3 separate regions of the Homo sapiens genome follow, and all the other regions are linked to region 1. Evidence: fine-mapped expression QTL. A gene starts in region 1. Each other region holds a variant in brackets. All regions are shown on one strand. Distances are from middle to middle. Region 1 holds the start of TCP11L1 (t-complex 11 like 1). Region 2 holds the start of LINC00294 (long intergenic non-protein coding RNA 294). Region 3 overlaps LOC105376621 (a long non-coding RNA gene).

Region 1 (8,181 bases):
ATACCAGTTCTAATAACTCAGGGAATAACTCCGTTTTTTTGGATAGGTAAGAATGGAAGGGCTGGGCGTGGTGGCTCACGCCTGTAATCCCAGCACTTTCAGAGGCCGAGGCAGGTGGATCATCTGAGGTCAGGAATTTGAGACCAGCCTGACCAACATGGTGAAAACCCGTCTCTGCCAAAAATACAAAAATTAGCTGGGCGTGGTAGCGGGTGCCTGTAATCCCAGCTACTCGGGAGGCTGAGGCAGGAGAATCTCTTGAACCTAGGAGGCGGAGGTTGCAGTGAGCCGAGATCGTGCCATTGCACTCCAGCCTGGGCGACAAAACAAGACTCCCTCTTAAAAAAAAAAAAAAAAAAAAAAAAAAAAAAAAAAAAAAAAGGGGAAGGCAGCTCTCTTTACAGTGAGGGGAAAAAGAAGATAAGTTTATGATTTAAATGTGAGAGGAAGTTTTCAGAAACAAGCTACTGGAACTGTGGTGAGATCAGCACGGTGGGCAGAGCAACCGTGTGCTATCTGATTTGTAACCTTTATTTTGCACATAATTGAATAGCATATTTATTTGACAACCTTCAGGGGAAGGCAGAACTGCTTAGTTACATTCATGCTTCTAGGAGAAGCAACATTCTAATAGAATGATAATTTCAGGGAAAATATACTAGTAAAATCAATTTACCTTAGGCCTTATAAGGAGGATAAAAAGAAAAATCGATCATGTTTACTGCAACCATTGTCAAGGTTTTAAACTACAGGTCCAGTGCTACCTTGAAAGCCTTGGGCAACCCTCCTCAGTCACTAGAACTGTTGATTATCTTTTGCTGTGTGCTCTCATTCATTCACCCATGACGCCTTCTTGGGGACCCATTCCCACATAGACACCTAATGCCTAGTTGACCGTAAGTCTTGCCATCATCCTAGCAGAGTAGACCAAGGTTGAGCACCTGATCCAAGGGCAGCTTCCCTGGAGGCTAATGAGACTAACTTTGTTCAAAAATCAGTTTGGCCAATCAAATTCTATATAGGTAAATTTAAATTATGAGGCGCGTCAATTAAGAAAGTACAGAAACCAGCCTGTAGCATAAAGAGTGGAATGGACTACAGCAAGCAGAGATGTGACAAGAGGGATCCTGTGTGTACAGGAGCAGTAGCCGACCTCTAGAGTGGCTGCCACCTTTCTCCCTCCAAGTCCTATGTCCTTGCAGTGAACTCCCTTTACCTTAACGTAATTTGAATTTCCAGTCCTTGCAGCCAAAGATCAAAATGGAATGTGTCTATATGTATTTTTTGAATATTGAAACAGTACAAAACATTAAAAGATTACAAGTGAAATATCCCAAATTAAATCAGTGATTTTGGTATTGTTGCAGTATCCTCTCCAGGTGGAACTTGAGTATATTCATTCACTTGCTCCTAACCAAGTGAAAATTGGTTATATTAACCTTTTTTTTTTTTTTTGAGATGTAGTCTCGCTGTCTCCCAGGCTGGAGTGCAGGGGTGCGATCTCCGCTCACTGCCACCTCTGCCTCCTGGGTTCAAGGGATTCTCCTGCCTCAGCCTCTCCAGTAGCTGGGATTACAAGCGCCTGCCACCATGCCCAGCTAATTTTTGTATTTTTAGTAGAGACGGGGTTTTGCCATGTTGGCCAGGCTGGTCTTGAACCCCTGACCTCAGGTGATCCGCCCGCCTCGACCTCCCAAAGAGCTAGGATTACAGGCGTGAGCCATTGCACCCAGCCATATTAATCTTTTAAGGAAGGTTCTAGCCTGCTTCCCCAGGGAGCTTTTAAAACTTGTCTGGCATCACCCTCCCCGGAGTTTTGGATGATACTTTTCCAACCCCTGCCCCTGAGATTCCAAGTTGTATTTGTAGTCAGGGCTGAAAAACACTAGAGACTTAATGGTACGAGTTTAGACTCAGAAGAACTGCATGTTTTCTTTGCAGATCTTTTTTTTTTTTTTCAGACGGAATCTCACTCTGTCACCCAGGCTGCAGTGCAGTGGTGCGATCCCGGCTCACTGCAACCTCTGCTTCCCGGATTCAAGCAATTCTCCTGCCTCAGCCTCCCAAGTAGCTGGGATTACAGGCATATGCCACCATGCCCGGCTAATTTTTTTGTATTTTTAGTAGAAACGAGGTTTCACCATATTGGCCAGGCTGGTCTCGAACTCCTGACCTTGTGATCCACCCACCTCCGACCTCCCAAAGAGCTAGGATTACAGGTGTGAGCCACCGCGCCCAGCCATTCTTTGTAGATCTTAACAGTTCCATTTAGTTGAGTATCTTAAGGGTTTTTGGTGTTTTTTCCTCCAAAAAGTGAATCTTCACCAGAGAACTTCTGTTTTTGTCTTTTTTTTTTTTTTTTTAAAGCAAAGACTTTAATGTGCAAGTTAGTAAATGGTTTGAGGGTCTGGTATTGCACTCGGCCTTCAATACGTTAGCAATAACTACCCACATGTGATCTATTTAGAAGCAGTGTTTGAAAGCACCAATGTCACCCCATCTGCTTTTTTGTAGTTTTTTTTTGTTTGTTTGTTTTTGAGACAGAGTCTCGGTCTGTCTCCAGGCCGCAGTGCAGTGGCGCGATCTCGCCTCACTGCAACCTCCGCCTCCCAGATTCAAGCGATTCTCCTGCCTCAGCCTCCCGAGTAGCTGGGACTACAGGCGCGCGCCACCACACCCAGCTAATTTTCGTATTTTTAGTAAAGACGAGGTTTCACCATGTTGGCCAGGATGGTCTCGATCTCTTGACCTCGTGATCCGCCCGCCTCGGCCTCTCAAAGTGCTGGGATTACAGGCGTGAGCTGCTGCGCCCGGACTAACTTTTTTTTAAAGCTGAGGAAATGAGAGAAGGGGAATAAACTTTGTGTAGCTACAAACAGGATGGCAAAATTAAATTTCAAAGAACGGGCGGGGAAGGTTTCAGATGCAATGGCTTCTTATTCCTTCTTTTGACTGACCCGCGCCTTCTCCGCCTCCCTTTCTCCTCGCGTCACCCGCACCAGCGGCTGGGATGCGGCGCGCGTTCCGTCTTTCCGTATGGAAACATGGCGCCTAGGGGCGGGCCATCCCCAGCTTCGAGCCACCGCCAGCTGAGACTCATCGGCGGGCACTCGGCCATGCCTCTCGCGTTTCCGTACGAAAACATGGCGCCTCACTGCGTGCGGCGGGCGACTCTTGGCTGGGAGCCACTGGCCACGGAGCCCCCTGAGCGGTCATCGGCCATGTTTTCCACCTCTCCCTGAGGAAACACGGCGCCGCCCAGCTGCGAGTCACCGCTTACTGAACCCCTTCGGCAAGCAGGGGAAAGACCCTCCCGCCTTTCCGTACGAAGACATGGCGCTGCCCTATATTGGGCTGGCGCCTCCCGGCCAAGAGCAGTCTCCTCCTTCCTGATGCTGAGAAGCGGCCGCTCTGACCGCTGCCCACCCGAGTCGGGCTGGGAGGACCGCCCGCCGCGTGGCGAGGGATGCGGCCTCGGAGGGGCAGAGGCTGAACCGCCCCTGCCTGCCGCGCATCCCTCCGGCTTCCGCCGCGGCGCCAGCCCGCGCCTGATTCGCGGCGGGAGCGGCAGGAGGGAGAACGCCGACTCCGTGGCAGGTGAGAGCGGGAGCTGGGGCGGAGGCTGGCGGGGCCCGTCCGGGAGGCGCGCGGTCCAAGTCGCAGGCATCTCTTCGCCTCTTCCCGTCGGATCCCATCCCGGGATGTCGGGGGCAGGCGAGGAAGAGGCGGGGTCCGCGGGCGGGTGGAGCTCACCCCTCGAGGCTGTCCTCTCGGCGCGCCCGCGTCCTCCCCTACTCCCGGCCCTGCCACTCCCTCGCTGGCCTGAACAGCTGTTTACAACGGAATCCGGACGCCGGGCGCGAGTGGAGCTCAGTGCCAGAGGAGGGGATTCCCGGCGCCGGGGGACAGAGCCCCTTTTTTCTTTTGCCGAAAGACCCTTTCTGCTGGGGAGCCTCTTGTGTCCAGCCTAGGCCCGCGTGCAGCGCCGACGGATGACCGTCTTCTTGGCAAGTGCGAGGATCCTCCTCCCCTCGGCTCTCTTTTTAGACACAGTGGGGGTTGAATGGATGCGCGCGATATAAGCAAATTAAATGGTTCGTGGCCGCATCCTAGAGCCCTTTAATTAGAGTTACCATTTGTAGAAGGCCTGCCGTGCACAATCCCTCGTTTCATCTCCCCCCAAACCGAGCAGGTAGGTAGCTGTGTTTTACAGAGGAGGACACTGAAGTTACACAGCTAGTAAAGAGCCAGAATTGGGGCCCAGGTATGTCTGAAACCAACGCCCAGCCTCCCAGATACAGTGACATCACAGAGATGACGTAGGGATTCATCTCTATCAACAGATACTTGTGGGTGTCTATTTGGGGGATATACAGATGGAGCATAAGTGGGGAATATGACTGGTCCTGGCTCTTAAGAAGTTCGAAATCTAGGTGGGGAATTTTAAAATAAAAACTAGCACTTTTACCATCTGGCCCCAACGCATCTTTCCATCATCTCTAGCCACTTCCTTTTCTCATTTTCTTGTGCCTTGGCTTCTGCCCTCTGAGTGAAATGCCCTCCTTTTCACCTCCTCTCCCCCTCCTCTCCCCCTCCAGACATGTTTTAACTAGGTGAAATCCTACTCCTTTTAAAGATCAGTTCAAATGTCATCTTTTCTGGGAAGGTTTTCTCAATCTCCTCCCAGGCAGAGTTAGTTTCTTCCTCTGCTATATTCCCTGGGCAATTTCATAATGCCACTTAAGTTTCATTATGGCTCCTTGTAAGCCTGTCTGCCTCCCCCTCTAGACTATGTATTTGCATCTTTCTATTTAAATAAGCACGCTTTGAATTGAATTTAAGGCAGTGACAAATGCCAAATGTCAACTAGCCAGCCCTGCAGGAGTTGAGAAAGGTGCAATCACTGGTGAGGTCCGGGAAGTGTCCTGGGAAGAGACAGGACTTGAACTCAATCTTAAGGATGGGGTTAGTTTACTAAGCTGAGCATTAGAGACCTAGAAATCCTCCCTTTCCTCCTCACTGCACAGAATGAATTACTTCATCCCTCCTGGGCTCCTTCTCAGCATGTGAAGATAATAAAATTAGCAGCGTTTTGTTTGTCGTTTCTCACAGAATATGCTGGTAATGTTATCCTTTGGATCTTGGAGCATTTCCTGACCCTAATAGGATTTAGGACACAGAGGAGATGGGTGTCTCCAGTGGGGTGTTGGAAGCTAAGATGGGTCTCGAAAGGGAAAATACATGAAAACAACTTTCATATTAATACAGGCCTGGGCCAGGTGCAGTGGCTCACGCCTATAATCCCAGCACTTTGGGAGGCTGAGGCGGGCGGATCACTAGAGGTCAGGAGTTCGAGACAAGCCTGGCCAACATAGTGAAACCCCATCTCTACTAAAAATACGAAAATTAGCGAGGCGTGGTGGTGGGCGCCTATAATCCCAGCTACTGGGGAGGCTGAGGCAGAAGAATCCCTTGAACCTGGGAGGCAGAGGTTGCAGTGAGCTGAGCCGAGATGGTGCCACTGCACTTCAATCTGGGGAACAGTGCAAGAGTCTGTCCCCAAAAAAAAAACAAAAAAACAGGCCTGAATATTTCAATCCCAGTAACTTCATTCTATTTAATGGAGTTCTCTGAAATTTCACATAATTCTATCAGGTGATTCTTCACCTCTCTCTAATATGCAGAACACAGTCTGCCAAACTCCCTAAATCAGTTGACATTTCTTTTGATCACCTGATTACCTTCCATGTGTGTAAGAAAGTCTAATTAGTGTTTATGAAAATGTTTTGTGATCTTCAAGTGCTGATGTTACAAATGTTAATTATTTTCAGCAAATGCAGAAACATTGTGTCTTCTCTCCCAGAAACACCCTAGGAAAAGGGAGAGTGGAGGAATTGACTAAAACTTTTACTGTAATTAAAACAGGGTTTTTTTGTTTGTTTGTTTGTTTGTTTAGACAGAGTCTCAGTCTGTTGCCCAGGCTGGAGTGCAGTGGTGCGATCTCGGCTCACTGCAAGCTCTGCCTCCCGGGTTCATGCCATTCTCCTGCTTCAGCCTCCTGAGTATTTGGGACTACAGGCACCGCCACCATGCCAGGCCAATTTTTTAATATTTTTAGTGGAGACGGGGTTTCAGCGTGTTAGCCAGGATGGTCTCGATCTCTTGACCTCATGATCCGCCTGTTTTAGGCCTGTTTTAGGCTGGGCACGGTGGCTCATGCCTGTAATCCCAGCACTTTGGGAGGCCCAGGCAGACCTTTTATTAACTGCTCCAAAGCACAGTGTCAAGTGTTATTGCTATTCTGATCAGCAACTAATAAAAAGCCCACCCAACTGCATACATTATGGTTGTTTGCAGCTTCTTACTCACAATCTTTTTCCTAATTACTGGCAAGAAGGTAATAAAAATATTTGCCCCACACATTCCTCTTAAACATTTCATAAGATTCTGTTTTCTGTAGGGCGCAGTGGCTCATGGCTGTAATCCCAGTACTTTGGGAGACCGAGGCAGGTGGATCACCTGAGGTCAGGAGTTCGAGACCAGCCTGACCAACATGGTGAAACCCCGTCTCTACTAAAAATACAAAATTAGGCCAGGCGCAGTGGCTCACGCCTGTAATCCCAGCACTTTGGGAGGCCAGGGCAGGTGGATCATGAGGTCAGGAGTTCGAAACCAGCCTGGCCAACATGGTGAAGCCCCATCTCTCCTAAAAATACAAAAATCAGCCAGGCATGGTGGTGGGCGCCTATAATCCCAGCTACTCAGAAGGCTGAGGCAGGAGAATCACTTGAAACCGGAAGGTGGAAGTTGCAGTAAACTGAGATCGCACCACTGCATTCCAGCCTGGATGAAAGAGCGAAACTCTGTCTCAAAACAAAACAAAACAAAAATTAGCTGGGCGTGGTGGCACCCACCTGTAATTTCAGCTACTTGGGAGGCTGAGGCAGGAGAATTGCTGAAACCTAGCAGGCGGAGGATGCAGTTAGCTGAGATTGCCCCATTGCACTCCAGCCTGGGCAACAAGAGCAAAACTCCATCTGGAAAAAAAAAAAATTCTAGTTTCTGTCATCTCTGGGTATCTTATTCACATGATAATATCAAGGAATCAACCCTTTAGCCCAGTGTATTCACTTGTAAGCCCAATTAAAAGCATTATTTCCAAGGAGTTTACCTATCTGCTCTTAGGAATGAAAGTAAAGAATTTAAGATTGAATCACTGATTAAAATTGTAGCAGCAGGTAGTTTAGAGTGTGTCTTCTAATAGTTTAAGGCCCTGTATTCTTGAAACATGCTACTTAGGAGTAGGACAAAAATATTCCAACTAACTACTACGTGAGATCCAGAAATCTGATAAATTACAAATGTCATTTTACAAGTATCTGTTTAGTCATTGAAGTAGAATATAGCTGGATAAGATCTTAGCAAGCTCATTTATTCTACAAACGAGAAAACTGAAACCCAAAGAGGTTAAATGATTTGCCCTGAGTCACATTGCTAGTTGGTGACAGAGCTAGAATACTTTTAGTTCTTTTTTTTTGTTTTTTTCTTTCCTAGGAAAGTGAATAAACTTAATTGAGAATGTCTGAAAACCTTGACAAGTCCAATGTAAATGAAGCAGGAAAATCAAAATCCAATGATTCTGAGGAAGGCCTCGAAGATGCTGTGGAAGGTGCTGATGAAGCCTTACAAAAAGCAATAAAGTCAGACTCCTCCAGCCCCCAAAGAGTGCAGAGACCTCACTGTAAGCAAATTTGACTTTGGTTAGATGCAATATTGTCATTGTTTTCAGGTGACGGTTTTATGAGGCCTCCTTGTGCATGTGGCCGTGAGCTAGGTTCTAATAATATAACATTGCCAATGTAGCATTTAGGAATAATAGCAGTTCCTCAGCTGGCAGCCTAGCTACTTGTGGATTTTCAATTGCATGGGAAATTAACAATTTAGAATAATGTCCAGAACGTTCCTGTCTTTCTCCAGCCTCAGTGACACTCCAGTCTCTGAAGTGCTCTGAGAAATAGGAGGGTGGAGTATAAATTGCAGCTTGTATTGAAAGAGTGTTTGAAAAGTCTGAGGCTAATTCCAGCCAGGACTGTGCTTGTGCAGGTTAAAAAAAAATGTGAGTAAGTTCACCACACCCTAATTCTCTGCCTGGGGGCTTAGTTCCCACAAGCTTGAGGGGAT
Region 2 (8,181 bases), 37 kb after region 1:
GCCTTGTCCCTCACCCCTCCCTTCTGGTATTTTTGTTAGAAGGGCTATATAACGTCTTATTGCCATTTTCTCCCCCTATTTATTGCTTCCTCCCTGCCTGGCCTAGCCAGGGCTCCCAAGCCCTTTTTTCTAGAGGAGAGTTATTTGTCTCTCTCTCTTTTTTTTTTTACTTTCTTTTTTGTATTTAAACATTCTTTTAACCTTCCCCCAAAGATACAGTTATTGGACTTTAAAAAGCTTGTTCTTTTATACAAAATTACTCCTGCATCTGGTTGAGAGCAGTTATGACTTATGAGATCTAGTGAAAGGAAAGTCTTTGACTTTCAAGCCTTGAAAGTCAAGGAGGAAATGTATTGAAAAATAGTTTACTGTAATGTGAACGAAGAGAAATGTCTGGAATTCTTACTGAAAAATTGACCCTGAGACAATACACAGATGTGATGATTGAATTAAATTCTGGAATTAGATTTAACTGTTTTCAGATAAAATAGCTTGAGTTCACGAATCTCCTAGATGAGGAAGTCATAGGAAATCCCTGGTGTTTGAGCATTATTTTTCAAGGAACTTCAGTGACCAGAATTCCTGACATGTCCTCTGAGCGTGAGTGATTTGGGTCTCATAGACGATCTGTTCTTTTTTTTTTTTTTTTTTTTTTTTTAAAGTGTACACATGTATGTCTGCATTTTAGACAGGGATGTTATATTAGAAGCAGAGCCATGAAGTTGGAATGACCAACTGCCACAACAGCAAGGGGTAAGACTATATTACTGTATGAGTAATGCAGTAATATCGGCACCTGAAGCCTTCTGTACAGGAAGCTAAGAGAAACTTACAAGTTAGCCGGGCGTGGTGGCTCACGCCTATAATCCCAGCACTTTGGGAGGCCGAGGCAGGCAGATCACCTGAGGTCAGGAGTTTGAGACCAGCCTGGGCAACATGGTGAAACCCCATCTCTACTAAAAATACAAAAATTAGCTGGGTGTGGTGGCACGCGCCTGTAATCCCAGCTACTTGGGAGGCTGAGGCAGGAGAATCGCTTGAACCCGGGAGGCAGAGGCTGCAGTGAGCTGAGATAGCACCACTACATTCCAGCCTGGGCAACAGAGTGAGACTCTGTCTCAAAAAAAGAAAAAAGAAAAGAAACTTGGAAGCCATTTCAGAAAGACTCCAGGAAGGCCAGCAGCCACTCCTGCACAACCAGGGGGAAGGGCTACATTTTACTGCAAGCAGCTGTTTTCTCTGATCCTTCTTTGTAAGGAAGTGCAGTGATTTTGTGTTTTGAAGGAAGACTTGAAGAAGCAGTTGGGTAGGTATTCCAATAGGACTGATGGGGAGGAAATCAGATACTCCATGAGAAGGATTTCAGACCTGGTAGAGTCAGAATACATTCTGCTTTCAGGATTTTTGAGATTGCTGATGGTCCCAGGGTTTATACAAGGACTTGGATCTGGCTATAGAAACTCAGGTAGAAATTACATGTATGCAGATCAGCACTGATGTTGGTTCTAATCTATAATGATGTGATAAATTAAAAAAACAAAACAAAAAACAGGGCTGGGCATGGTGGCTTACACTATAATCCCAGTACTTTGGAATGCCAAGGCAGGAGCATCATCTGAACCCAGGATTTCAAGTCCAGCCTAGGCAACATAGTGAGATCATGTCTCTACAAAAAATACAAAAAAAATTAGCCTGTTGTGGTGGCACACAGTTGTACTCCCAGCTACAAGCTGAGGCTGAGGCAAAAGGATCACTTGTGCCCAGGAGTTTGAGGCTGCAGTGAACTATGATCATGCCACTGTACTCCAGCCTGGGTGACAGAGCCAGACCCTGTCTCTCCTTAACAAAAAAAAGTAGAGCCAGATGTATCTTTTTGGGTCCCAGGCAGGAGACTGGAGAATCTGGGTCACTGTAATCTGGCAGACTGGCTGCATTTTGTGAGGGTACTTTTATTCATATTTATTTATTTTTGTTTGTTTGAATGCATTATTATTTTTTTAATAGAAACCACATCACTTCATTTGTTACAGCGAATAATTCAAGAGGGTCCCAGAAAGCTTTTTCATCCACAGAATTACAGAAAGGATAAGCACCCTCACCACCCAAGCCTTTGGTTCATTTTTTATTTTTTCAAGACGGAGTCTTGCTCTGTCACCCAGGCTGGAGTGTGGTGGCGCGATCTCAGCTTACTGCAACCTCCATCTCCCGGTTTCAAGCGATTCTCCTGCCTCAGCCTCCTGAATAGCTGGGATTACAGGCACGCGCCACCATGCCCGGCTAATTTTTGGATTCTTAGTAGAGACGGGGTTTCACCATGTTGGCCAGGCTGGTCTCGAACTCTTGACCTCGTGATCCATCCGCCTCGGGCCTCCCAGAGTGCTGTGATTACAGTCGTGAGCCACCACACCCGGCCTGTCTTTAAGTTTTATACTAGTTAGGAGGCTAGTCTATCAGAATGTCCCTAATTTAGCTGAGGAACCTAGACAAGTCTTCCTTGATTTCAGCTTCATCCCAAGGCCTCTGAATATTTTCTTTAAAAAGCTGCAGGCGAATGAGGTAAAATGGACAGAGACATGAGATAGAAATCAACAGAAGGGCAAAGAGTACGGCTCCCACAGCACTAATAGGCAGTAGGCCTTCCAAGACCGAAAAGGCAAAAAGCAGTGTGACCACCACATAGCCCTTGGGAGTCCGTGCCTTTAGTTTCTTCTGTAGCATGAGCCACAGGACAAAAATCTGGATGGCAAGTGTTCCCATGATGAAGACATGCAGGGACTGGGGAAGGTGGAAGCCAAGCATCCAGAAGCAAAGATGGCCATGTTCAAGGATAGTGTGCTGGATACAGTGGATACAAAGGCATCATTGGCACCATAGTTAAAAAAGATGAGGTGGCCTACCAGCATGAAGACTGACATGGCATAGATGGTGTCAGTGCTGACAGACTCTGTCAGGGTCTTAGCACTGGTGAAAAGCCATAAGTGAAAGTAATGAAGACTAGGGCACTCTTCAGGTCAGCCCACCGGGTCCACCCACTCTTCTGCCCTTCACCTCCATCAGTGAGATCAAACAAAACATACCCAATCAGTGAAGAAGCCAGGCCAGTCCCAAAAAGCCATTGGGGGGCCAGAAGACCCTCATCCATATACCACCAGATAACCAGAAAAACAAAAACACTGCACAGCTGCGGGATCACCACACTGGACTCAAATACCATAGCCCAATATTGGTATTTCCGAGCATGGATGTTTTTCCAGAGCTCTTCCAGGAACCGCCGGTCCACAAAGTTATCAGGAAAGGGCTGTTGCTCATACAAGACCCTCTGCCACTTTACCTCCTTGGTGTTTGTTACAGGTTGGGTACACATAATCCTTTCATTCAAACTCAGGCTAGTTTAATCATCCCTCTCACAGAGGTCCATGTGGTTCTTGTTGATGACATTTTGAAATGAGACCTCCCTGGAAATTCCATGCCTTGGTTGATATTCTGCTGACCTTTCCTTGTTTTCAAAGGCAGCAATCCAGGCCAGGCCTACAATAGATGAGTTTGTCTCTGAGGCAGGATATAATACAGCCAAGTTCCTGGGGATGCGTGACTGGGAGATGGCAGTTGCCTGCCTTTTTCCTTGTAAGGGTTTTTTTTTTTTTTGAGATGGAGTCTTGCTCTGTCGCCCAGGCTGGAGTGCAGTGGCGCGATCTCGGCTCACTGCAACCTCTGCCTCCCAGGTTCACGCCATTCTCCTGCCTCAGCCTCCCAAGTAGCTGGGACTACAGGCGCCTGCCACCATGCCTGGCTAATTTTTTTGTATTTTTAGTAGAGACGGGGTTTCACCGTGTTAGCCAGGATGGTCTCGATCTCCTGACCTCGTGATCCACCCGCCTTGGCCTCCCAAAGTGCTGGGATTGTAGGCGTGAGCCACTGCGCCCTGCCATGAGGGTACTTTTAAAGAAGATAACATCTTCCATGGTGTATTCAATGAGGTCGTGTCTGGAATTGTTCCCTTAAGGTGGAGGCTGCTCTGTGGCCACTGTGCCTGGCGGTTGTATGATCCTGGGTTCCTGGGCAGAGAAGCCTCAGCCTCAGAGTGTTTGGGGCCTTTTCCTGCCGCTCCAAGGCTGAAGGAGAGGAGCTTAACCCCAACTGCACAGCGCTGATCACCACTTCCTGCAGTCATTCTTCCTAAATCTCAAAAACTCTTCTTTTGTAAGAGTAGATTCTTGCAAGATATTTTTCCCCTCCTGAGTTCTTACATTGCCAGAGTTCCATTTGGACCGTTTGAAATCTTGATGCATGAATAACTGGCTTCACAGACTCTTGGCCGCCCACTACCTCGGTGTCCACTGGTGGAGTTCTGCAACTGGCAAAAGTCAAGAATGAAGGAAGCAAACTTCAGAACCACAATATTCATATTGAATCATTTTGTTGTTGCTCTATGAAGATAAGCTAATTTTCTTCCTGGAATCTCATAGGATTATTACTAAGGGCCAGGGAGATCCACTTCGTTCATTTAGTCACTCAGGAAGCATTGCTAAGCATCCCCCTGTACCTTCCCCTACAGCTCTCCTTCCAAAACGAAACATCCTTTGGAGTGTGTTGTCCTCCAGAATCGAATGGATTCTATATGCTGCATTCAGTAACAGGTTGTGGAGACAAGTGTCTTTTCCTGAAATTGCTAAGTGTATTTGGCAGTACTTTACTACTTGTGGATAGAACTGAGAGTGAGGTCAGTATCACCAAGCCTCTTGGATTTCTTCAGTAGTCTCATGGATAAGTGAATGTTTAAAGTAACTACTACTTTGTTGGCTCTTGGTTGGGTGGATGGATTCTCAGTCCTGGTGTTTTTAAAAATCTCATTCCAGCCGGGCGCGGTGGCTCACGCCTGTAATCCTAGCACTTTGGGAGGCTGAGGCGGGCAGATCACCTGAGGTCAGGAATTCGAAACCAGCCTTACCAACATGGCAAAACCC[A/G]TCTCTATTAAAAATACAAAAATTAGCCGGGTGTGGTGGCACGTGCCTGTAATCCCAGCTACTCGGGAGGCTGAGGCAGGAGAATCACTTGAACCCTGGAGGTGGTGGTTGCAATGAGCCGAGATTGCGCCATTGCACTCTAGCCTGGGTGACAGAGCGAGACTCCGTCTCAAAAAAAAAAAAAATCGCATTCCGTCTAAAGCAAGCTACAAAATGTGATTATTTATGTCACGATATGACCCAGCCATAAATGTACTTCAGGTAAGAAGGACACTGACATGATATCTTACTGATCAAATGCAGTCAGTAGGTATATATGAACTTTTTTCTCTGTGAAGAAAAGCTATTAATAAGTTTGACTTAATAGGCCTATAGTATGCACATACTGGCCAAGATTCTAAATGGATTATTCAGCGGTTCTGTTTTTGTGGAGGTGCTTATTCTCATTTCTCCAAAGCCTTAAGATTCCTGGGAATAGAGGAAATGTTGCTGCCACCAGCTTTGCTGGTGAATTTCAAAGAGAATAGGTGTTTGCTGTTTGATTTCTAGTGACCTTTTGGCGAGCTCTGATTTATAGGTAGAACATTTGTGTTTCTTTTCATTTTGAGGCCAGGTGGTAGAGTGGAAAGACTGGGAGCTGTCAGGAAACCAAGGCTTGGATCTCCACTCTGTTATGTACCAGCTGGGGCAAATCAGGGCCCATTCCCAACTCCTTTAAAATGAAAGGACTAGACTTGGTCTTTAAGCTCCCTTCCGATTCTAACATTTGGTGGTAGCAGGATTGTGCACAAAGCTCCTAATTTAGAGAAAGATCTGGGTTTTAGTCTTTTCTCCTCTATCGCCGCCTTACCGGTTGTACAACATTGGACCAGCCATTCTCCCCAAGGCCTCGGCATTTTCATTGTTAAATGGGAACACTCCTAATTCACACTGTTGCTGTGAGGATTACATTTGGTAATGAATGATAGAATGCTTTGTACATGGAAAAGGACTATACCTTTCTTTTTTAACTACAAAGGCGAACATGTAACCCTCTACCTGTGGGCGCACATTTGCTGTGGTGTTACGTTCCACTGGTAGCGCCCAACCTCCCTTCATTCAAGCACATTTTACGGGCCTACAGGGAAGGTTTTCTTCCTGTCCTCTCCTAAGACTTGTTTATGTTCATCATCTCTTCTATACTAGAGCTGCAGTCTTACATTTGCTTACTTCCTGACATCCACCCCCACCCCAGTGATTTCTCCCCATCTCCACCTCTATATTATTTGAACTAAATGAATTCATGAATGAACAAATGAGTGGATGAATGAATGGTAATGGATAATGGGCTATGAAGTCATATTTAAAGGCACTATCTCATTTAAAAACAATCTAAATAAATAACTACAATGATATTTGCAAGTGTGTATTTATATTGGATTTTGCATTATATAATTATTTTAATGGAAAGCCTTTTTAGTCATAGTATTCAAAGCAACTTCAATGGGTGGGGAAGGGGATAATCTTTAAGCCCAGGTAAGCTCTGTTTATTAAACGATCAAGTGTTCACTGGTACTTTCAGAAATAGCCAGAGTTCTACAAAATATGTGTTAAAAGTCTAAACATATAATTCTACTTAAAACTGTCCCTCATGTGGGTTTCTGTCACACCTGACTTACATTTATTGCCTACCGAACTTAAGAACCAGAACTAAGCTATAGGCCTGGTTCGATGGAGTGTCACTTTTCTTGACTTAAAAGTAACCTTAAAACAAGAGGGGCTGGGCAAGGTGGCTCACGCCTGTAATCTCAGAACTTTGGGAGGCCGAGGCAGGCAGATCATTTGAGGCCAGGAACTCTAGACCGGCCTGGGCAACATGGCAAAACCTTGTCTCTACTAAAAGTACAAAAATTAGCCAGGCGTGGTGGCATAGGCCTGTGCTCCCATCTCAGCAGGCTGAAGTGGGAGGATTGCTCGAGCCCGGGAGGCAGAGGTTGCATTCAGCCAAGATCATGCCACTGCATTCCAGCCTGGGTGACAAAGTGAGACCCTATCTCAAGAAAATAAAAAATAAAAAAAAGAAGGGCTTCACATGGTGGCTAATCCCAGCAGTTTGGGAGGCTGACGTGGGAGGACTGCTTGAGCCCAGGAGGTCAAGACCAGGCTGGACAACACAGGTAGATCCTGTTTCTACATAAAATTTAAAAAATTAGCTGGGTATGGTGGATGGTGGTGCATGCCTGTGGTCCCAGCTACTTGGGAGGCTGAGGTGGGAGGATTATGCTGTGATCATGTCTCAAAACAAACAAAAAGACTTATGAAAATTTTTGTTTTCTTTTGTTTTGATTGTTTGTTTTTGAGATGGAGTCTCACTCTGTTGTCCAGGCTGGAGTGCAGTGGCACAATCTCAGCTCCCAAGCTCAAGCAATTCTCCTGCCTCAGCCTCCCCGAGTGGCTGGGATTACAGGTGTGCGCCACCATGCCCGGCTGATTTTTGTATTTTTAGTAGAGATAGGATTTCACCATGCTGCCCAGGCTGGTCTTGAACTCCTGACCTCAGGTGATTTGCTCGCCTTGGCCTCCCAAAGTGCTGGGATTATATATGTGAGCCACCGTGCCTGGCTGAAATTTTTATTAAGTAAAACGTAAGTTCACTTGCTCATTGCCACAGTCAAAGAACTACCATGTTAAAAAAAATAATAATAATAATTTATGACCATGATGACTATGGTTTAATAAAATTGAACTCAACATTTATTAACTATAGGCCAATACAGGGTTATAATATCAAATAAATTCATAATTATTGACCAGGGTCAATATACTAACAGAAATGATGTGTTTTTCCTTCTTTTTCTTTGGTACAGTTTGGTTGTTCAGAAAGTTTACTAGTAGTTTCTATTAACCTTTTACTGTACTAGATGTGGCCACATAGGTGCAACCTCTTGTTTGAAGTTTAGTGGTAAAGGCCAGAGTTTGACTAATTTTTGTTTAGGAAGGACATACATATAGTCCTTGAAACTTTTGTCTAGTTCTAGAATCTTGAGGAGATGCTGTCATTGCTTTTATAAACAGGAAAAAGATGGATATCTTTTGGCAATTTCTTTGGGTCCAGCAATACTGATATGAGTCCTTGGAATTGTAGGACTGATTATCCCATGAGTCTGCACATTAGATTTCCAAAGGTAAGTTCAGATGTCTAACATCATGCTGCTTGTTGAACTGTTTAACAAAAGGA
Region 3 (8,181 bases), 860 kb after region 1:
TGGATTCTGAGCCCTTGTGTTCCTGGTCTGAGTTCCTCCCTGTTGGTGACATTGGCTGAGCCCAATCTCTAGGTTAGGACAGCCTGACAACTCATTGCCAACTCCTGGTGATGGTTCTGTTTTGGTTTGGCATAGTCTACCTGGGACTGTTCCCCAACTCTGGGTAAGCCCTTTGTAACACCTGAGCCTCTCCCCCTAAAACTGAGCACTATCATGTAGAAGTTAGGAGCACAGCCCCTAGTGTCGGACCGGCTGTGTTTGAATCCTAGTTCTGTCCCTTGCCAGATGTGTAACCATGGACTCGTTATTTTAGCTTGCCATGCCTCTATTCTATTCTATTCTGTTACCTGTAAAAGGTAGGAATTATAATGCCCATTTCATGGTGGTGGTGTAAGGATTCACTGCGATAAGACCAAAGAGATGGGACCTTCTCTCTTGAGAACTTGACAGTTAGGTCCAAAGGAGTGTGAGTAAAACCCAAGTGCAATTTAGGCAGGTGACAATAACCACAGAGCCCAACCTGATGGAATAGGCAGGAAGTTGTATGGGGAATTGATGGCAACAGAGTCAGAAAACAGAGCGGTAAGTATTAATGCAGAGAAAAGTGAGATCCATAGGCAGAAATTCTATGTAAGGCCAGGCTCTTTGGCTCACACCAGTAATCCCAGCACTTTGGGAGGCCGAGGCGGGAGGATCAATGTAGGTCAGGAGTTCAAGACCAACCTGGCCAACATGGTGAAACCCCATCTCTACTAAAAATACAAAAATTAGCCAGGCTTGGTGGTGTGCGACTGTACTCCTAGCTACTCAGGAGGCTGAGGCAGGAGAATCACTTGAACCCAGGAGGCAGAGGTTGCAGTAAGCCAAGATCACACCATTGCACTCCAGCCTGGGAGACAGAGAAAGACTCTGTCTCAAAAAAATAATAATTAAAATTTAAAAAGAAGAAATTCTACCTAAGAGCCCGAAGCTGCCCTCTGCCCTCTCCCGTCTCCTGCAGGACATGGCGCCAGCTCCAGGTTAGGGTAATCTGGAAACTAGCCTTGAGTGAAGGGGCTGAAAGGGCTCAGGCAAGTGGGACAGGATTTATAGCCTGCTGCTGGAGTTCTGAATAAGGACTTGAGTCCCCCTTCCCAGGATTTAGAAGGGCCAGGGAGGTGGGTTAGCACCACCAGAGCAGGGAGGTGTAAAGGTGCAGCACAAAGCTACAATCTGAACATAGCACCCCCTCATCTCTTGGTACTTGGCATGGTTGGCTCCTTGGCACCCATCTCTCCCCCTTGATAGTCCCTTGGAAAGCCATTCCTTCCTTACTCTTAGTCCCTGTGTTCTTGGTGGAGTTCCCACATCCAACTTCCAGAGTAGGCCACGTGAGCATGCCTGGCTAATCAAAGCATGGTGCCTCCCAGGCCACTGGGATTGGTTCAGAGAAGGGTCACCTTGGGTAGCTGATGTTGCTGCAGCTATCTTGCCACCGTATGGAGCCAAGACTGAAAGATGAAATAGAGCAGGGCAAGGAAGAGAGGCCCAGGAAGACCAAGTCCTAATGACATCGTTGGAGCCTTCGAATCCAGCTGTGCCTAGAGCCAGCCCCTAACCCTGGAGTTTTCAGTTACATGGATCAATAAATTCTCTATTAGCTTAAATCACCTTGATTTGAGTTTTCTATCACTATTAACCAACAGCATCCTAATCAAAGGCTAAAGCAGCTGAAAATAGCCTATTTCCAGACCGCATGTGCTCATTAATAAAGAGCAAGTTCCTGTGGTACCATGAAGCCATGATACCATTGGCCTTGTGTCTGGATAAGGCTCAGGCTAAAGATGCCTGACATTACTATAAATACCTGGGCAGGGGTGAGTTGGCAGAGCAATGACCAGGGATACAGAAAACCAGGTTTTTCCTGATGCCTTATATCCTGCTTTAATATCTCCACCTGCCAATGAAGGAGTTCAATTGGTTGCCGCCATTTTAGAGAGCATAATGGTTATACTTTACCTTCAAAAAAATCTATTTTCTATCTATCTATCTATCTATCTATCTATCTATCTATCTATCTATCTATCTATCTTGCCATGGAAGAACCAAGGCAAAGAAAAGTGTAAAGATGATCCTACCAATTGTCCCAGAAGACAGCCCCTGGAACAATCATAAAAAGAATCCCAAACCCTTTGAACTTTTTTGTCTATGACAAATAGCAAAAGCATCCATTGCTGTTAAATATCTGTTACTACTACTCATTCCTTCCATCTTACAGATGTAAAAGTTGAAGAATTAGTTGCTGTCTTAGTTAAATTAGAATAGCTGCTTAAACAAGGGATCTCAAAATATATAATGACTCCACATCCTTGAAGTTCACTTCTTTTCCCCTAATAGTACTGGATTGGTGAACAGTTGGCAGGGCAGGCTTCTCCCGTGTAACTGTTTAAAGATCCAGGGAGAGGGAGGCTCTGCTGTCTTCAACGTGTGAGGTCCTCTCAATTCCAGCCAGTTGGATGGGGAAGGAGCATGAAGGAGCAGTGTGTGGGAAACCTTTATGGGCCAGACTTGAAAGTGATGAACGAAACTTCCAATCTCGTGCAATTGGATAGAATTCCGTCACGCAGCTGTAGCTAAATGCAAGAGAGTCGGAGCCAGCTGTGGTGGCTCACACCTGTAATCCCAGTGACCCTGGAGGCTGAGGAAGGAGGATGACTTGAGGCAGCAGTGAGCTATGATTGCACCACTGCACTCCAGCCTAGGCAACAGAGCAAGACCTCATCTATCAAAAAAAAAAAAAAAAAAAAAAAGGAACGGAGTCTGAGAAATATAGTTTATCTTTGTGCCCAGGAAGGAGAGGAAAATATGGATTTGGTGAGCAACTATTAGTCCCTGCTACACCATGCAGTGTTTCCTTTCTGAATTTGAATGGCACTTTGAGCCTGCAATTTCATTTTAGTCTGTTCTGTGCGTCTTTGCAATGCCCAATAGATTTGATAGTATAATCCCCACCCTACAGAAGTGAATTATTTCCTTCTTATATCTTTAGGTGGATACTCAATACATATTTATTAAATGGATAAGTCAATTCATAAGGTAAAAACAAATGGAGCCTGTTAAAATATGTTGTTTATTAGATCACTCTTTAGCCTTAGAAGACTTTCTTAGAATGTTTGTATGACTAGCCATCTTCTTTTACCATTTTTGTTTTATAAATACATAAATATCATAGAAAGGAAAATTTCAGGAAGTAGAAACATATACTGATGTTTTTTCCCACTAAACTCAGCTATTATCAAGTGCCTGTTAACTTTTGCATTCCTTTGTATGTTTAAAAAAAAACCCTACTCCCTTATCTCTTGGTGCCTCCAGAATGCAAAAATCCCTGAGCTCTCAACTTACGAATCTCCTATAAGGCTGCTGGAGCTTGGATGTTAAAAGTCCTCATGAGGGCTTTTCAATAGTATGGCTTCCTCTTGCAACATTGGCACCTCACTTTTCATTTAAAAACATTTGCTTATGTGCTTTTCAAAGTGCTTTTATAGCCAGGGTCTGATTCAGTCCTTACAAGTCTGTGAAGGTGGCATGAGGTCATCATCACCCCTAGGACCGAGAAGGGTTCACACATGAAAGTGAGCGCAGAGCTAGAACTAACACCTGGTCCCTCTGCCTGCCATGTAAACCATCTCCTGGAGGAGTGCTGTGTTAATGACCTCAGATCGGCTCCTTCCTCACCCCTTACTCCTGTTTTCTATTCCAGGTCGGAAAAAGGCAAAAAAAAACACAAAAGAGCAAGATCAAAGTATACCTCTTTACCTCTAACTAACACAGAGCCTCTATCCAACCCCAGAAGTGGTCCCCCACCAATA[C/G]ATGAGTCTTTTGTCCACTCAACTTTCTGCCTACCTTATTTATCAACAAGAAGTTTGCACAAGTTCTCTTTGTCAGCTAAGAGGCTTTCTACTATTACAGGCTGCCCCTTACGGGAAGTAGACCCTTTCCCTCCTAGCCTTTAGAATTGTGTTTTGAATATAGCAGACCAGAATTTTGATTAGATTTGTTTTTTCAATTATACGGTGGTTCCCTCACTTTTATAATCACCTAGAAGTCACTGTTGGCAACATGTCACTAGGGGCTTAAAGACAGAAACTGGGTTGATTTCCACATAATGATCCAAACAAAAAAGGCTGAGGAATGAATCCTGAACCACGAAGCCCACTGCAGTTTACGTAAGTGGTTTATGTTGAGACGCGGCCATAGCAAATTTCCCTGATTTCTGAGCATTTTCCTGTGGATTATTTCTAACCTGCACATTTTTTTCCATAGCCAGATTTGCCTTGACCCCAGGGGTGAACATTTAGAGAGCAATACTTCTCAGTCGCGGTTCCCATGATGCTATCAATTCCATTGTAGGGCCAATAATTAATTATAACAATAAGAAAGACATTATTCAACTAGGCCTCCCTTCCTGCCATTAAATCCACAAAACTCCCTGCCACCTGGGCAGTTGTTGATGTGTGTTTCTGTGTGTGTGTGTGCATGTGTGTGCACATGTGTACTTAAAATAACCGGATTAAAATTGTGTGTAAAATACACAAATGAAAAACTTTGAAAAAGAAAGCATCAAAATAACTAAAGTAGTTGTCTAAGAGTGGTGACGTTAGTGGAAGACGGGTCTGTTACTCTCTTTTTCTATAATAACTATTGTAGTGTTAGTACTTAAATAACTAAAATTCATACTATCAATTTTACATTAATTCAACATAAAAATTCTAAGTACTTTACTATTCCTCCAATGTTTATGATGTATCTACTACATGCCAGGCATTGTCTGGGTCCTAGGGATACAGGATGAATAAGACACAGTTCCTTCCCCCATAGGGCTTCTACTCAAATAAGGGAGACGAACATAAACAAGTAATTAGATTGGTTTATTAATTAATATGTGATATGGTTTGGATCTGTGTCCCCACCCAAATCTCATGTCAAATTATAATCCCCAATGCTGGAGGTAGGGCCTGGTGGGAGGTGATTGGATCATGGGGGTGGTTTCTCATGGCTTAACACCGTCTACCTTGGTGCTATCGTGGCGATAGTGAGTTCTTGTGAGAACTCCACCCTCTCTTGCTCCTGCTCTGGCCACGTAAGACAAGCCTGCTTCCCCTTCGCCTTCCACTATGATTGTAAGTTTCCTGAGGCCTCTCCAGAAGCCAAGCAGAGGCCAGCATCATGCTTCCTGTACAGCCTGTGGAACTGTGGGCCAATTTAAGCCTCTTTTCTTTATAAATTACCCAGTCTCCAGGATTTCTTTATAACAATGTGAGGACAGACTAATACCAAGCATACAACAAATATTTTTGGAGCACATACTATGGTCCTGAATACGTTTATATGCTTTGGATCAGCAGCAAATGAGGCAAGCAAAGACCCTTGCCTTCATGGAGCTTGTGGTCTAATGGATATAGATCATCATTTGTTTCTAATCATAATGACTGTAGTGAAGAGAAAGTGCTAGCGGGGGACCTGACCTAGCCTAAAAAGCCTGGGAAGACCTCCCCAAGGAAGCAACATGATTTTAAGTGCTTCAAGTAAAATAGGGCTTTGTTTTGCCATCCAGGACAGAGGGGGCTGCCCTGGATGTGGCAGGAGTTAATTCTGGTGGACACTGAAGTCTGTCTCTCAGTTCCATCTGCCGCAGAGTGTAGCCTGGTGCAAGAGCTGCCCTAGGCAACGTGTGGCCTCTGGGCCTTGGGCTGACCGTGTGTAAGGGGATTTGGAACCAAGTTTCCATTAGTAGTCCCTGTCCATTTTTGCTCCCATGCACTGTTTCTGGTAAGTCCTGATATAGAAACCAGCAAGGCCATCCTTCCCTTGCAGCACAGACAGTAACTAATGGGCCTTTCTTCTGCAGACGGGAAAACTGGAGCAGAGAAGACAAATCCAGCCTGAGCCAAGAGGCCTCTGCATCGCTGGTCAGGAAAAAGCAACTGCTAGATTTCTGGTTTGCCCCTCAGACCGTGGAGCTCCGGGTCACCAGCCTGAACCGCTTAATGCACATCACGCCTGGGTTTAGTTGGAAATGGCTGAAGGCACTTAAATGGAACTCCCAACCTTTGTCCTCAGCTTCCGAAACCACAGGTAAGTATTGAGGTCTGTGTTGTATCGATCATGCCTCCCACCGGCATCAGGAAAAATGCTGTGAAGCAAGTCAACTTTCTAGTGACAAGGGAAGTCATTCTCCTAATCCACTCTCACTGGACAATCAGGTTGACAAAAACCATTAAGTTTTCCGAGATTAGAAATTCACTGTCAGAGGGAGCCGTGTATAGAGTTTTCCACTCCATTACACCCAGGACAATAACCAGAGGCCAAGTGACAGAAAAAGCCTGGGGCTTTTTTAAAGTTTCCTGTGTCCTTGAGTAGAGAAAAATAAATTCACAAAGTGTCTCCTTTTTGTAGGATGTGGGTTTGTATATCCTCTCATTGATCAATGCAACAACCTATGAGGAGAGGTCTGTTTATTGCATTTGACAGAAGAAGAAGCCGAGGTTCTGCAGGAATAGGTTTGCTATCTAAGATCACCCAGCTAGTTAGTGTCGGATGGGGCTGAGAATCAGAGTCAGAAAACTGGAGGGGTCTAGAGACTAAATGACCTGCTTTCTTCTAGGCAGAATAGCACTTTAGCCATCCTTGAACCCACTTTCCCCGGAAAGACCCCACGGTTCTGTAGCAAGTGGTAGCGGGCTGGGACAGGGGTTAAGATCACAGGCTGTGGTGCCTGACGGATTCACATCCACGCCCCAACTCTGCCTCCCACCGTGTGCCTTGAGGCAAGTTCTTTCCCCTCTCTAAGCTTCCTTCTCCTCCTCTTATTCGTAAGAAGATAATAACCTAAAACACTACCCCATAAGGGTTCTGAGGATTAAATGAGATCACACTTGTAAAGCATTTAGCATATTGACCGGCGCATGGCAAGTACTTTGAAAAACAGAAGCCAGTCAGCAATAGGAAGTGGTTTCTTACTTATGTCTTTACTATAAACTTACATAAACACAGAACTGAAAGTTTGGAAAACCGAAGAAAAGAAAAAATCACCTATATTCGTAACAACTGTTACCATTACAATATATTCCTTCCGGTACTTTTTTCCAATGAATCTATTTTTTCCCACATATATAATTTTTTTCTGTAGCATTGCACTCCATTCTTTTTCACTTAAAATTGTATTAAAATCATTGATTCATATTGCTGTAATTTTTCTTTTCATAACTGTACTGTATCTTATCATCCGAACATAACCATAATTTTCTTATCCATTCCTCTATTGCCTGACATTTGTTTTCAATGTCCCTTATTATAAATAATGCTGGCTCAAGCCTGTAATCCCAGCACTTTGGGAGGCTGAGGCAGATGGATCACCTGAGGTCAGGAGTTTGAGACCAGCCTGGCCAACATGGTGAAACCCTATCTGTACTAAAAATACAAAATTAGCTGGGCACGGTGGCACGTGCCTGTAATCCTAGCTACTCGGGAGGCTGAGGCAGGAGAATCACTTGAATCTGGGAGGTGGAGGTTGCAGTGAGCCAAGATCATGCCATTGCACTCCAGCCTGGGCAACAAGAGCATAACTCCATCTCAAAATAAATAAATAAATAAATAAATAACATTAATAATAATAATAAAATAAAAATAAATAAAGTGCTGGGATTACAGGCATAAGCCACCACACCCGGTCTAAAATCTGACAAAACCAAGTGTTGGTAAGAACATGAAGCAATAGGAACTTTCATTCACTGCCAATGGGAATGCAGAGTGGCACAGCCACTTTGAAGAACTGATGTTATCTACTAAAACCGTTAGAAATGCCTATCCTATTATACAGTAATCCCAACTCAAAAGCATATATTCTAAATCAAGCATTAGAAAACTTTTTCTGTAAAAGATTAAAAAGTCAATATTTTAGGCTTTGCAGGCTATGTGGTCTCTGTTGCAACTACTCAGCTCTGCTGAGCAGGAAAGTGGCCACAGACAATGCAGAAAGAAACTGGCGTGGCTGTGTGCACTAGAACTTTATTTATGGACACCAAAATTTGAGATTTTTTAAATTTTTATTGTTATTTTGAGACAGGGTCTCACTCTGTCATCCAGGCTGGGGTGCAGTGGCGCAAGCACGGCTCACTGTAGCCTTGACCTCCTGGCCTCAAG

The links. PIP is the estimated chance that this variant, and not a neighbour inherited with it, causes the effect.
Region 2: its variant is fine-mapped to the expression of TCP11L1 in whole blood (INTERVAL, PIP above 0.99).
Region 3: its variant is fine-mapped to the expression of TCP11L1 in uterus (GTEx, PIP 0.95).

What each region holds. Positions count from the first base shown.
Region 1 is chr11:33,036,196-33,044,376 of GRCh38, forward strand. It overlaps TCP11L1 (t-complex 11 like 1), which reads left to right and starts at 3,377. Exons shown (of 10, transcript NM_018393.4): 1 at 3,377-3,597; 2 at 7,555-7,741. The coding sequence starts at 7,579. RefSeq lists enhancers at 2,780-3,327, 3,048-3,397, 3,878-4,197 and a silencer at 3,378-3,777.
Region 2 is chr11:33,073,097-33,081,277 of GRCh38, forward strand. TCP11L1 (t-complex 11 like 1) reads left to right here. Exons shown (of 10, transcript NM_018393.4): 10 at 1-454. LINC00294 (long intergenic non-protein coding RNA 294) reads left to right here and starts at 3,054. Exons shown (of 1, transcript NR_015451.1): 1 at 3,054-6,358. It also overlaps the pseudogene PIGCP1. The variant A/G (reference allele first, on the strand shown) is at 4,965.
Region 3 is chr11:33,900,722-33,908,902 of GRCh38, forward strand. LOC105376621 (a long non-coding RNA gene) reads left to right here. Exons shown (of 3, transcript XR_931176.3): 2 at 5,888-6,114. Among named protein-coding and RNA genes, the nearest start is that of LMO2, 13 kb to the left of the region's middle. The variant C/G (reference allele first, on the strand shown) is at 3,849.